2 separate regions of the Homo sapiens genome follow, and region 2 is reported to be linked to region 1. The links are microRNA targets in miRTarBase. Many come from high-throughput screens and were not tested one by one. Region 1 holds a microRNA gene; the other region holds the end of a gene's coding sequence.

Region 1 (7,120 bases):
CCCAGGGATGACCGGATGCCTTGTGTTACTCCCACTGTGCTTGTAAAAAGCCTACGTGATGAGGCATGCTTCCAAAGGCACCATCTCTAGCCTCGTGTGAGGTCACCTGTGTTTCTGGAGCAGTAGGGTGTGTTTGCTGACATGCCGTGCCCCTGCCCCAGCCCATTTGTTGTTCTCTGAGTTCTGTCTGTCTGTGTGTACCGACACTCAGACGTGTCACCGTGCATGTCTGCTGTCCGCCAGCAAGGGTCACGTGCCCCCAAACTTTGCAGAAAACAGGAAGCCCCGTCAGTGAGAGGGCAGCCCAGTGATTCATCAGGGGATGACAGTCCCAGCTGTTCGTCCCCCATCCTCTGCACTGGGGTCACTGTCCAGGGTGGCTTCCTCCCCATGCCTCCCCTCCCCTCCCCGCCCGGTGGAGCAGAGCGGGCTTGGACTTTGCCTTATCACCTCTGGAGGCGGCCTGGCCAGACTCTGTTTGGGCCAAGTTTTTATTTATCTTCACTGGCTTTTTTTGGGGTGGGGAGGCTGAGGAATGTGGAGTGTTGTAATGTTTGGAAGAGGGCGGTGGGGAAAGGGGAGCCAGGTCTCCTGTCCTGCTTGTCCTGCTTACCCCTGCACCTTTGCAGGCTCCCGGCCCCCCTTGGTTCCCCAGTTCCCCCTGCCAAGCCCATATCAATATGGCCCATTGTCTTTCTCCAGCTCCCTGGGTCTGGTCCCATGCTCCTGGCCACACCTCACGTCTTGGCTACCGTTGTGGCTTCCAGTTGTTCAAAGCAGCTGTGGTGGCTTCCTCCAAAAGTGGCTACGGATCAGCAACAGATGAAACTCAAGGGGCTATTTATAGCAGGGTGGCCCTGGGGCCTGGAGCAGGGCCTAGGGCCTGGGGAGATTCAGGGACTCCTCATTAGGGACCAGTGAAATGGAGATGGGTGAACTGTTGGGTTTCTGTGTTCCTCTGAGGGGGCAGTTTTGGAACAGCCTGGTTTGGGTCTTGAAAACCAAACACAGTCACTCGTTGACTCCCAGCTCCACCCCTGTCTAATCCCCCCACCCCCAAGCTTGACTCATGCAAACTGGAGTCCTCAGGGCCAGAAGAGCTGTGAGACTTAGAAACTTCCCCCCAGTAGCCCCACTTGGCTCTTCCCTCCTTCACTGCTGAGGAGCTGCTCATTGGTCCGAGGCAGCTGGGACTCTGGGCAGAGCCTTCTTCCGGACAGCTGGATGGAGGGTCCCCCTCTTAGCAGAGCTGCTCTAACTTGGGGCTCAGCTGGGAGCTGGACCTCGGAACCCACCTATCCTGCCTCGTAGGCACTGCGGAGCCAGGAGAGGGGTGCAGGGGCTCCTCTTCTTGGAGACCCCGTGGTCAAGCCCCAGGTTGGAGTGTGAATCCTGCCTGGCCGTCAACTTCCCAGGGACTTGAGGGTAAGTTATTCTGTGCCTCAGTTTCTTCCTTTCTTGGCAGATTGTGGTCCTGTCTCTTTAAAGAAGAGGCTGCAACTTGGCGGTAGGAAAAGACCATTTTCTGAGAGGCACATGGGTGTTTGGAAGGTGTCAATGGGCTCAGGAGGTCTGAGAATCTAGAAACTGGCCTTCCCAATTCTGCATCCTGTGAGGTGACTGGAAGGATGGGTAGAGGCGATGCAGGGTGTTGGTTTTCTATAGAGGTGAATGTTTGGTTGTAACTACCCTTTTCATTTTTCTTGATACAAAAGTAACAACAAAAACAACAGCTGTCATCTGGTAAATACCAGGCATGATGCGAAGTGCCTTATATGCATAACTCCTTTGGATCCTCACTGCCAGCCTGAAGGTTGTCCCATTTTACATGTGACATTACAAGAGGCTCAGAGGGGTTAAGTAACTGGCAGGGCTGCCCAGCAGGATCCTGGAATCCAAACTCTGTGGTCTGTGGGCCTCTGACCCTGTGCTTTCACACCCGCCATGCCATCCTGCTGCCCTGGGATGGATTGGGCCCATTTGCTTAAGTTTGTACCACTCGACAGCTGTGAAAAGGGGAGTGGGTGAGATGGTTACTGTCTGCCACAGACAGTGGGGAGTGGGCCCTCAGGAGCATGGCTCACTGTCTTAGGCCTCGTCTTGGTTCCTGCATGCTCCACCTGCCTGTTCTGGTCTCTAAACTCAATTGAATGACTTGATGTTACAGCTTTCAAGCAGAGAAGTGTGGGGTGATGGTGGCAAGACAGAGGGGCGCCATTACTCTCATCGCTCCTTTTGTGGTGGCAGTCGTATTCTCCTCCTGGGGTTTCTCTTGTGTTGGCGAGTGTATCAAAGTGAAGTGTGTTTCCATTGATTCAGTAACTGTTGAGTGTGCCCTCAGTGTGGATGGCACCAGCCCAGTGGGGTGCACTCCTCAGCATTCGGGATTCTTCCTTTTGTCCCTCTGGGGCTTGCACACAGGCAGGCACACTCACGTGGAATCAGTGTTGATGGCTTTGGCTTCGGGCAGGCTGTGTTTTTGCAGGGGTTAGGGTGGCAGGGCCAGAATGTTGGCAAGGAAAGAAGAGGATCATGTTTGCCCCCGTGGACAGCTCTCTGGTGTGCTCCTCCTGCCATCCTGCCCACCCCTGCATAATGCTGCTTCTCTTCTCTCCTTCCCAGGGCTCCACCAGGGTCACCCCGAGTGTCCAGCCCCACCTCCAGCCCATCAGGTATGCCTGGCCCGTGGGGGCAGGGGGCGGGAGTGCAAGCAGGGGGGTCACTGTGGGTGTCCCTGTTAAGTCTTGCCTCTGGGTCCCCCGGACTGCAGCCATAAAGCCACGGGTGGGGAGTGTGGGCAAACGTGAAAGGCACAGGAGAGGATGCGTGCGGATGCCGTTGGCAACAGTTGTGTTTTGAGCTCTTAGCCAGCCCTTGAGCTGAGTCTTTATTTACCTGCATGAGCTCATCTAGTCCTTGCAACAACCCCGCAAGGTACGTATTTTATTCCCTTTGGTAGAGCAGCATTTCAGAGAGATGAGGTGACTTGTAAAGGTCACACAGCCACCAAGAGGCAGCACTTGGATTTGCGTTTAGGGCTGATGAGCATTGAGGCCTGTGCTGGATCTCTTCCTCTCTGCAGACAGGATTCTGACTGGGCAGAGTCATTTATGAAAGGGAAGTTCCCTATCTGGCTGGGCTGGCAGGGGCCGGGGGAAGGGGATGCACAAGGGACTTTGTGTCCTGGCGATCCAGAGAGTTTGTTTTGCCCTCTCTGCCTCACCTTCACCCACTGAGGCTCCTGAGATGATTGGGGATGCCAGCCCTGCAGTAGAGTTGAAGCCCCTGGAAGTTTCTGGCCCAGCTGCCAGCTGTCCACAGACTGGAGGTGGCTCCTTAGAGGATCCCCTCCTTCCCTTAGACCTGGGCAGGTGGATGCAGAGTGTGATGCTGAGGCTGTCCGGCTGGTGGCACTGTTCTGCATTTGCGTCCTTCCTGGGATCCAGCCTGTAGACAGGGGCGGGTCAGTGCCCCAGATGGGCCACGTCTGACTCATGGCCCTCACCAGCACGGCCCCTCTTGCTCCCCTTCCTGTGCTGAGGGAGAGGCTGAAATCACAGGAGCTTGTCTTGCGAGTTTTTCTGACATTCTAGTTTCTTCCTTGGAGCCAGAACAGAGAGGGGTTTTGGAGGATGGGGAGGAGGGGATGCTGCAAGTTAGCTGAGGCTCCCCGCCCTCACACCCACTTGCTTGCAGGTATGTGTGCGTGTGGCTTCTTGTCCCAGACTGGTCACCACCTACAAGAACTGTCCTTGGGTAGGCAGTTGGCTTGAGATAGAAACTTCTCCCCCACAGCTGCAATGAGAAGCTTTCCATAGGGACAAGAAGTAGCTGGGACTCAGAGTCAAACTCAAACCGGGCTCCTTACCTCTGGGTGCTGGTCCCCAGTCCCACTCAGGCCCCTGTCATCCCAACAGAGAGGTCCTGCCATGCCTCATCCTTGGCTGCCCCATCTCCACACCCCACCTGGACTGGGATTGAACCCTGGTGGAGGTCTGGATTCCTCATGGCTTCTCAGCATCTGGGGGCTTGTTCTGTCTAGTGCCAGAGAGCCCTCATCACTTTTAAATACCCCAGTGGTATTCCTTTCGCTGCCCTCCACTCTCCACTTTATCCCGCTGTGGTGAAAGGTTAGCAGAATGAAATGTCAGTGCTGCCTGCATTTGATAGAGGGGGAAGCGAGACACTAGGAGGTCAATGATTGGGGAAAAAGCTGGAGGGATGGGGGAGGTGCTTCTAGAAGCAAGAGGTGGGCTTCCCAAGTGGGCATCCTGGACCCTTCCTCTGGAAGAAAAGTTGGGAGAGATGTAAAGATGCGAGCCCCTCCCTTCCTCACCCAGTGCCCAGTGGAGAGGATGGCCAGCCCAGGGGCCTCCCCACCTCTCCGGGAAACGCATGGTGCTGGCGGCTGCCCGCCACTGCAGCAACAAGGGCTCTGTGCCCTCTTGTTTTCTGGGCCCTTAGAAATCAGGGAGGCTGCTGCCAAGAAGCAGCTCTGGCAGGCAGTGGGAGCTGCCAGAGGTGGGGAGAAGGCCAAGGAACAAAGGGCAGGAGTTGGCCTGCCTCCGGGAGGGCTGGAATGTGTGCTGTGGTCTGGCTTACCTGGAACCCAGGTGAACGTGTCACCTGAGATGCCCCCTCCCCTGAGAGGTTTCCCGCCCACTCCACAGCTCGAGAGCTAGGGGCGGGCAGTGGGAAGTCTCCGTTCCAGGGCTGGAGAGCGCCCAGCGCAGGCTCTCCTTCCTCTTCCAGAGCAGTCTGGGGCCTTTCGGGAGACTTCTGCCTGGCCAGGCAGCCAGTGTTGGGAGCCAGAGCTCCTGGGTTCCTGGGCCAGTCTGGCCCTGGCTCTGAGCTCTGGAGTCACAGGTTGAAGGCAGTGGCCAAAGGACTGATGGGAACCAAGAATTGGTGTCATCACAGTTTGGTTCTGAAATGGCCTGAGGTCCTTGCCAGCCCTACCCAGCTTGTTCTCGCCGGCACTCCCAAGCCGGCCACATTGGCCTTGCCAGAGGAAGCCTGTGGCCTTGGCCTTGGGTTGAAGAGCAGCCAAGCACCCTGGGCTGCATATGGGGGTCACACAGGGTGTGTATGGGGTGCAGCTATCTGGGGCCTTCCCTGTGGGCTGGATTCTGATATGGACCCTCCGCTGCCTGCTGTCTCCCTAGAAACATGAGTGTGAGCCGGACCATGGAGGACAGCTGTGAGCTGGACCTGGTGTACGTCACAGAGAGGATCATCGCTGTCTCCTTCCCCAGCACAGCCAATGAGGAGAACTTCCGGAGCAACCTCCGTGAGGTGGCGCAGATGCTCAAGTCCAAACATGGAGGCAACTACCTGGTGAGGATGGATCCTCGTGCCCACTGTCCTGTGCCCTCTATGCTTCCATCTGCTCACCACCTCTACATGACTGGTATCCCTGCCACCAGCCCCTGTGCCAGCATGCCCTCTTCTCTTTGTTTATCTGCCTTTCCCCTCAGGCAGCTCTCGTGCCTGAGTCTTCAATCACTCTCCAGCCCAGCTCTCCTCTAAGGAGTGTGCTGCAGCTGGAATGTAGCATCTGGAACTCTGTGTGTGCATGTGTGTGCTGGCCAGGAGAAGAGAGTACCAATAAGAGTTCAGGTTATTGAGCGCTTGCTACTAGCCAGGCCCTGTTCCAACTGCTTTCCACGCACTTAACCTTTGCAGCAGCCCTAGCAAGCAGGCACTTGCCAGAGCACAGAGAGGTGGGGTTATTTGCCTAAGGTTGCAGGGTCAGGAAGTGGCAGAGCTGGCACAGGGTCGGTGCCTCTGAGAAGTCTGAGGGCAGAGTCTTGGCAACATGTGTCTTAAGGGACCCTGGGTTGCTGGCACCTGGCTCGGCCTGGCCCAGAGGAGTCACCTTGGCACACGGGAGAGAGGTGCTGGCGGTGGTCTCCACTAACGCAGAAAGGCTGATCCGTCCTTGGCCCCAGAGGAGGGCTCAGGTCCATTTTAGAGGGAGGTGCCTGTGGACTGGACCCACAGATCTGATCTGTACAACCTCAGGTGGCTGTCCCCAGGGTGTTTGAGGTGGGATGTAGGAGGCTGCATTAGTTTCCCAGGGCCACTGTAGCAAATGAGGTGGCCCTTTCTATCCATGGGTTTCACCTCTTTGGACTCAATCCATCATGAGTTGAAAATATTCAGAAAAAACCCAACAGTAAATAACAATAAAAAACAATACAAATAAAAACAATACAGCAGAACAACTATTTGCAGAGCGTTTATATTGTATTAGGTATTACAAGTAACCTAGAGATGATTTAAAGTCTACGGAAGTATATGCATAAGTTATATGCAAATAGTACATTTTTTATATGCAAGTTATATGTAAATAGTACATATTTTATGTAAGAGACCTGAGCACCCATGGATTTTGGTATCCACTATCCATGGCGGGGTGGAGGGGTCCTAGATCCAAATCCTCCATAGACACCAAGTGATGACTCTACCTCAAATCTGGTGGCTCAAAATAACAGAAATTTATTCTCTCACAGTTCTGAAGGCTGGAAATCTGAAATCAAGGTGTTGACGGGGCCATGCTCCCTCTGAATCCTATGGCAGAGAATCCCTTCTTGCCTTTTCCTAGCTTGCGGTGGGATTCCTTGGTTTGTAGCGCATCACTCCAATCTCTACCTCCATCTCCACGTGGCCTTCTTCAGTGTCTCTCTGTGTGTCTTCTCTTCCTACAAGGACATCAATTATTGGACTTAGGGTCCACCCTAGATCCAGGTTGATGTCATATTGAGATCCTTAACTACTTACACTGGCAAAGGCACTATTTCCAAATAAGGTTGTATTCTGAAGTTCTGGGTGGACATGACGTTTTGAGGATACTATTCAACCACTATAGAGACCCACCTGTTAGCTGCATTGGGGCATTGTTAAGAGCTTGGCTTTAAACCTCAGAAAGTCCTGGGTTCAAATTCTGGCTCTGCCTTTACTAACTACATGATCTTAGCTGTTTAGCCTCACTAAGCCCTAGCTTCTGTGTCCGTAAAGTGGGTCTGAGGTCTACCTCTTATTGTTGTTGAGAGAATTAAGCCAGCTGTTAGATGTAAAGTCCTTAAGACAGGCTGACAGGTGGCAGACATTCATTGAG
Region 2 (7,120 bases), not on the chromosome of region 1:
AACAGACAGAGAAGGAGAAAAGGATTGTTTTGGCAGAGTCTAATGGGAAATTGTAAGACCTTTTTAAGAACAGGTTCATTTTTTCCCTTCTTGGTGTGGTTTTTCTGCAAACAGATGAAATTAAATTGTGAAGGAGCCTTAGCTGTTTCATAGGTAATTAATAATGTATGCATCCTGGTTTCTTAAATCCTGTGGTTGTTTTTAATAGAGGATATATCAGATGAATGGATTTTAAGTAGTATCTTTTTACTAGTGTGTATACGGGAAGGATATGTATATTTGTATGTGTGTATATGCAAATGTGTGTACTTACAGAGAGGGAATGAGGGACACAGAGAGATAGGCATATAGTAGGTTAGGGAATTGTAATAGAAACTCAGAAAGAAATAATGGGGTAGCTACTGCATACATGTACAGTACTTCTTTCCTATGAGGTAGAGGTACTATACTAGAGAACTTTTAAACCATATAAATAAATTTTAGATTGAAAAATGTTTGTATCAAAGTTGTAATATGAGGGTACAGAAGAGTCAAGTGAAATGAAAGGAAAAGAAGAGGGAAAGAGCCAGAGGGAATATTGTGGGTTTTTCACAATATTGGTTCCACTTTTTCAACTTCTTCAGTTGAATCAAAGGTCATAAATTACGTGAAATAAAACAGGGCCATTTATAAGAGATCCAAGTTTGAGAAATTTCTTAGACCTGTGTAGTTAGAAAAAAGCAATCTCTAATTATATTTACCTATAGAGTTTATGTTCTCCAGATGTGTGACAATTACATAGTACTTGGACAGTATCCAAGTATGATAATAAACTGTCTGAAATTGGCCTAATCTACATTTAACCAAAGTGTATATATTGTGGGTTTGTAAAAAATTGTTATTTTTTTTTATGTTTTGGGTGTTTAGGCTAGACAGCAACAAGCAGAATTGGCCCAACAGGAATGGCTTCAAATGCAGCAAGCTGCCCAACAAGCCCAGCTTGCTGCTGCCTCAGCCAGTGCATCTAATCAGGCGGGATCTTCTCAGGATGAAGAAGATGATGATGATATCTGAAATTCACCAGCTGAGTTTCTATTTCTTCTATAAATGTTTTTCCCTGCACAACAAAAACAGTGAAAGAAATGCTTATCTGTAATTTTGTATGCATCTTGGTGGACTTGTCATTGGTATTCTAGGGATGTCTGCTATTAAGTTTCATCTATTGTGTGCTATACATGTAAAAACTGTCTCTTTGAACTATTGAAAATTTAAGGTTCAGTATAATATCAATTTTGAATTTTTAATGGTGTTTATGAAATTTTAGATAGCAGCGAGTCCTTCGTTTGATCAATAAACAGTGTTACAGATAACTTCAAGTTTATAAAAATACAGTGAAATTTCTACAAAGCTCTAAATCTGCATTTGCATTTCCTCTGCCCTTTTAACTAAACTAAAACTTGTGAATTTTAAATTATTAAGGGGGGGGTGCTGTGTGAATCAGTAGACATTGGATTGGGTTGGTGAAAGAGTTCAGTTCTGTAGTATCTGAATTTGTCTTTTAAAATGAGTACATATATAGGCAATAAATATATATGCTCAGATCAATATACTTGTTTAGAAAAACTTCAAGACATTCAAAAACTAGGAAGGAGTATGTTTAATAGTATTTGTATAAATTTGGTGGTTATGTTTTTTTATTTTGTTTCTGTTTTGTGTAGAGGTAAAAACTATAGTTTTATTACAGCATAATTCATTTTGAGCTCCACTATGACATTTCAAAGACTGCCCAGTTTGGAAGTCTGTCATGATTTTTACTCTTTCACTCCAATTCAGTAATTGTTGATAGTATTACTTACCTAGTCCATCCATACTCATATTATTCAAATATATAGGTGGTACTTTTGAAACAATTACATTGGTTCTCTTGGTTTAACTGAGGTTTATGAATATTCAAACCTTTGCTGGGGGAAAGAAATGAAAGTTAATGAGCATGCTTGCTATGAGAGAGGGATTTTTAATTTAACTTGTAGTTATAGTTTACTTATTGTTTTTAGAATTACTTTTACATTTTCCCAACTAGATGGCCTAGAGTCCAACATTACCTTTTGAGATGACATTATTGTCTCCATAATTGAGTGATAGCTTTAAAAAAAAGATTAGTTTTGCTTAAGAAGTTATGTTACAACTGATCAGCCCTATATGAATTAACTGATCAGCCCTATATGAAACATAAGTTGTGTTATAACTTATCAGCCGTATATGGAACATAAATAGTTTCTACCTGCTTGTTAGAGAAGCTTTAATTTGGTTCTAATAAATACAGTATGGTAGTGTTTATAGGAATCCAGGATGTTGAAGAAATGGCATAATGTCTATATTTTGGAAACAGAAAGGAAAAGTCACTTAAGATAGTATTAAGTAATTAAATTCCTATGTCAGTTGCCAAATCTTTTAAACTTATGTATTCACCAAGCCCAAAAATAGATTGTGGCTCCCAGGATTCCAATTTTAATTGGAGAGCTAAGTAAGTAAAGTTTTATAACTGTTAGGTTTCTTAATGATCATATTTTGCAGTTTTAGTAAAAGGGAAATATTGTTATACATTTATTAAATATACTTCCCCCATGAAGTGAAAAGGTTAATTTTGCTGAATGTTTTAAGTTGAAGTTACTTCATGGATGTCATACCCATGAAGTGCATTTGGATGAGATAGAAGAAATTGTTTTTTAAAAAGTTTAAGTACCAAAGGTAGTCTAGTCTAGAACGATAAGTTAATACGTGTTGGCTTTTCTAATTTGTACTGTAACATCCTTATACTTTCTATTTTAAGTATATCTGTTTCTTAAGTAAACAACTTAGATATTTTCCACACCTTTTTTTTTTTTTCTGATGCAGAGTTCAGGTTAATATTTTACTGCATCTGATAATGTATTATACGTTTGAAGCCTAGTGACTTTTCATTTTGACATTCTTGTGATTTCATATGCTGTATTCTTCAAGCAATAAAATTGTGATGTGTTTTATAAATGGTTTTTATATTTAATGTTCTATAGAGAGATTTCTATTATTACCATTTTTACTATTTTCAAGAATCTTAGGCCCAAAAGACATTTTGGTCATTTGGTATGTAGTACCTGCCTTTTGTTTTTGTTTACTGTTATTTCAAAAAATGTGGTTTTACTTGTATTTTTATAATTTACAGTCCTAAGATCGAGGCATAACAAAGCTTACTTATGCAATATTTTATTTTTAGGTTTTTTCTTTTTTTTTTTTTTTTTTTTTTTTTTTTAGCATTTAAGAGTCACTATTATGTTTTGCCAGTTAAAATTTTTTAAATCTTTTGAAGAGAGAAACAAAATCTTCAGCGTTCTTGAGAAATAAAATTATTGTTCAGTAAGTATTTTTCCATCCCCTTGAATATATGTTATATATTCTTTTTCGGCAGATTATCAGATTAGTAAGTGTTTAAAAGGCATCAGTTTTTAAAACTGCATATACCACACACACACAAAACAGTACACAAATAAAGGTTTTCACAAATTAAACAAACTCACATACTAGTCTTCAGATCAAAACACAGAGCATTATGTGTACCCCAGAAGCCCTCCTCTTTCCCCATCTTAACACTGTCTTCTTTCTTGCTGAAAGTTACTATCCTGACTTCTAAAATCATAGATTAGTTTTGCCTGTTTTTTATTTTATGTAAATGTAATCATACATAATACACTTTTTTTCATTCATCATTTTTGTGAATATTTTAGTTTCTTGTTGCCACTGTAACAAACTACCACAAACTTAGTGACTTAAAACAACACAGATTTATTCTTTTATAGTCCTGGAGATCAGAAGTCCAAAAATCAGTTTCATTAGGCCTAAATCAAAGTATCAGCAGGGTTGGCTCTTTATTGAGGTTGTGAGGGAGAATGTTTTCTTCCCTTTTTTGGCTTCCAGTGACGGCCTGTATTTATGGGCTTGTGACCCCTTCCTCTCTATGATCAAAGCTTGCTTTTGTCATTATATCATCTTCTCTTCTGTAGTCAGATCTTTCCCTGCCTCTAAGTTTAGGGCTCACCTGCATAAAGCAGGGATAATCCCCCTATCTCAAGATCCTTAATTTAATCACATCTGCAGAATCTCTTTTGCCATATAAGTGACATTCACAGGTTCCAGGGATTCATACGCTGGCTATCTTTGGAGGCCGTTATTCAACCTGCCAAAGTGAGATCCATTCTTATTGTTGCATGTATTTGTAGTTCATTCATTCTCATTGCTGTATAGTCTTCCGTTTGTTTATCCATTTTTCATTACATCCAAAAGTTATTCATTCTCCCATTAATAGTCTTTTGAGAATTTTTCAATTCTGAGCTATTATGAATAGTACTGTGTAGAACATTCTTATACATGTCTTTTGGTGAGTGTATACATTTCCATTGAGTATAAACCTAAGAATGGAATTGCCAGGTTGTAGGGTGTGTATATTTTCAGTTTTAGTATTTACTGTCAAACAGTTTTCCAAAGTGACTGTAAGAAGGCACCATTTTAATGTGTAGCATAAAAATGAATTACGCTAATGATCTTAGTGGGTTGAATTTCTCGAAACACCTAAATTGTACCAAATGAGTTATATTGCAGCAGGTATGTTGTTAATTTCATATAACAGGAAAATAAGAGCAAAAGTAATTGCCCTTATTAACTGACACATTAGTATTACATACTCATTAGGTTATTGCTCCTTAGAAAAAATGCAAATTTTAAGTAATCGTAAGTAGTATGTTGAATTAGTATGTTGTGGGAAAATCTGTGATTTAATTTTTTAATTGAATTTTAAATTTTGGGTTATAACCTCATTAAAATGCATGATATTTCCTTATATAGGTTTCTAAATTATGTCTGTCCAACTCATCTATATCCAAATGGCCATTAGGAAGAATTATCCAATTCAGATGGCATAGGCACTGCCTTCCAATTTCTTCATTTGTATTTTTTTGTTGCTGTTTTCTTTTTTGCCTCTGTCCCCAACAATTTGACCACAAGTCCTACCCCACCTCCTCTGTTTTTCACCATCCCCCAGGATATAAAGTGTCATGGTTAGGATCGGCCAGGGTGAAGAGAATGATAACATAAGTAGCCTCCTTTCACCTAAAGTATTACCACTGGTTCTTATCCTATTTCCTCAAAATAAATGAGAAGAGAAAGTAAGGAATAAGAGGAAGAAACTTTTTTTTTTTTTTTAAAGAAACAGGGTCTCACTATGTTTCCTTTTTCTTTTTTCTTTTCTTTTCTTTCTTTTTTTTTTTTTTTTTTTTGAGACAGAGTCTTGCTCTGTCACCCAGGCTGGAATGCAGTGGCGCGATCTCGGCTCACTGCAAGCTCCGCCTCCCGGGTTCACGCCATTCTCCTGCCTCAGCCTCCTGAGTAGCTGGGACTACAGGTGCCCGCTAGCACGCCCAGCTAATTTTTTTTGTTTTTTTTTAGTAGAGACAGGGTTTCACCGTGTTAGCCAGGATGGTCTCGATCTCCTGACCTCGTGATCCACCCGCCTTGGCCTCCCAAAGTGCTGGGATTACAGGCGTGAGCCACTGCGCCCGGCCTATGTTTCTTAATATAGATTGCAGTGGCTAGATTACAGTGACTATTCACAGGCATAATCATAATGCACCATAGCCTCAAACTCCTGGGCTCAAGCAATCCAAAAGGAGGAAACTTTTAACTTATGATCAGTTTCTACCATAAATCAAGCAACTTAGAAAAACCTTAGAACAGGGTTTCTCAAACCAAGCATTGTTAGTATTTGGGGTTGGTTAAGTCTTTGTTTGTGGGAGCCTATCCTGTGCATTGTAGGATTTCTAGCAGCATAATTGGCTTATGCCCACTTGATGTCATTAGCACCACTCCCCACCCTACTTCCAGTTGTGACAACCCAAAAATGTCTCCAGACATAGCCAACTGTCCCTGGGTGTTGCGAGTATAGGAGGCAAAATTGCACCCTGTTGAAAACCACCACCTTAGATCATCTAGGTTTTACTTTTAGGATAAGACACTTGAGGGAAAGGCTGTGAAACTGAACCTCTGTTAGAAGCAACACACAGTATCACTGCAAAAAGACTAAAAGAAATAGGTGATTTGGAAAGAGGAGGCCCAGGATTAAAATATGTTTCCAAGAAAGTCAAATCTTACAGGAGACTCTTGACTTCACATCTGCTGATCCCTTTACCCGATAGGACCTAGAGCAGCCATTATAAATCTCTGTACCTGCTTGCTGCTTTTCTACCTCATTGTTAGCCACACCCAGTTTGAAACAGATGAGGTATGCTATTTCATAACTAGTACATCTTTTAATAAGCATTTTTTATTGTGATTAAATATGCATATCGTAAAATTCACCACTTTAACCAGTTTTAAGTGTTCAATTCTGTGGCATTAAGTATATTCATACTATTGTGCAACCACCACCACCATCCGTCTACAGAACTCTTCATCTTCCCAAACTGAAATTATGTATTCATTAAACAATAACCACCCATTACCTCCTCTCTCCTCAGCCTCTGGTAACCAGCATTCAGTCTCTATGAATTGACTACTCTGGATATCTAAATGGATTCATTCTTATTTCATTTACCATAATGTCTTCAAAGTTCATTCATGTTGTAGCATGTATTAGAATTTCTTTCCTCTTAAAGGCCAAATATGCCGTAGTATGTAAATACCGTATTTTGTTTATCAGTTCATCCATTAATGGACACTGGGTTGCTTCTGCTTTTTGGCTATTGTGAATAATGCTTCTGTGAACGTGGGTATACAAATAACTGTTTGAGTCCTAATAGGCTTGTTATTTTTGAGTGCACAGATCTGTATATTCGCAATTGAAATAGGGAAAGTCTTTATATTCATATAAAGATAATTTATAATACAATAAGTCCTCAATGTTGTTGATAGGTTCTGGGAAACTGCGAGTTTAAGAAAAACAACATATAATGAAATCAATTTTACCATAGGTGAACTGATATAAATAAGAGTTAAGTCCCTATGGCATATATTTCTGGTTACAAAAACACTACCAAATTTCTAATAAAGACCCAAAACACTTCTAAAATTAAACATTGAGATTAATATGAGCTTTATATACATTTAAAAAGGATAA

What was found. Region 1 holds the annotated microRNA hsa-miR-6809-3p (CUUCUCUUCUCUCCUUCCCAG, at 2,602-2,622, shown strand). A microRNA usually pairs through its seed, bases 2 to 8, with sites in the 3' UTR of a target mRNA and lowers its output. Matches are read on the target gene's strand: a 7mer-m8 pairs with bases 2 to 8, a 7mer-A1 pairs with bases 2 to 7 and ends in A, and an 8mer does both.
Region 2: the mRNA of DR1 is a reported target of hsa-miR-6809-3p. Seed matches in the 3' UTR shown: 7mer-A1 at 3,326-3,332, 7mer-m8 at 5,086-5,092 and 8mer at 5,167-5,174.

Annotation. Positions count from the first base shown.
Region 1 is chr2:217,896,015-217,903,134 of GRCh38, reverse strand. MIR6809 (microRNA 6809) reads left to right here and starts at 2,507; the gene lies at 2,507-2,622. TNS1 (tensin 1) reads left to right here. Exons shown (of 33, transcript NM_001387777.1): 7 at 2,623-2,672; 8 at 5,166-5,337.
Region 2 is chr1:93,359,587-93,366,706 of GRCh38, forward strand. It overlaps DR1 (down-regulator of transcription 1), which reads left to right. Exons shown (of 3, transcript NM_001938.3): 3 at 907-7,120. The coding sequence ends at 1,053. Among named protein-coding and RNA genes, the nearest start is that of DR1, 17 kb to the left of the region's middle.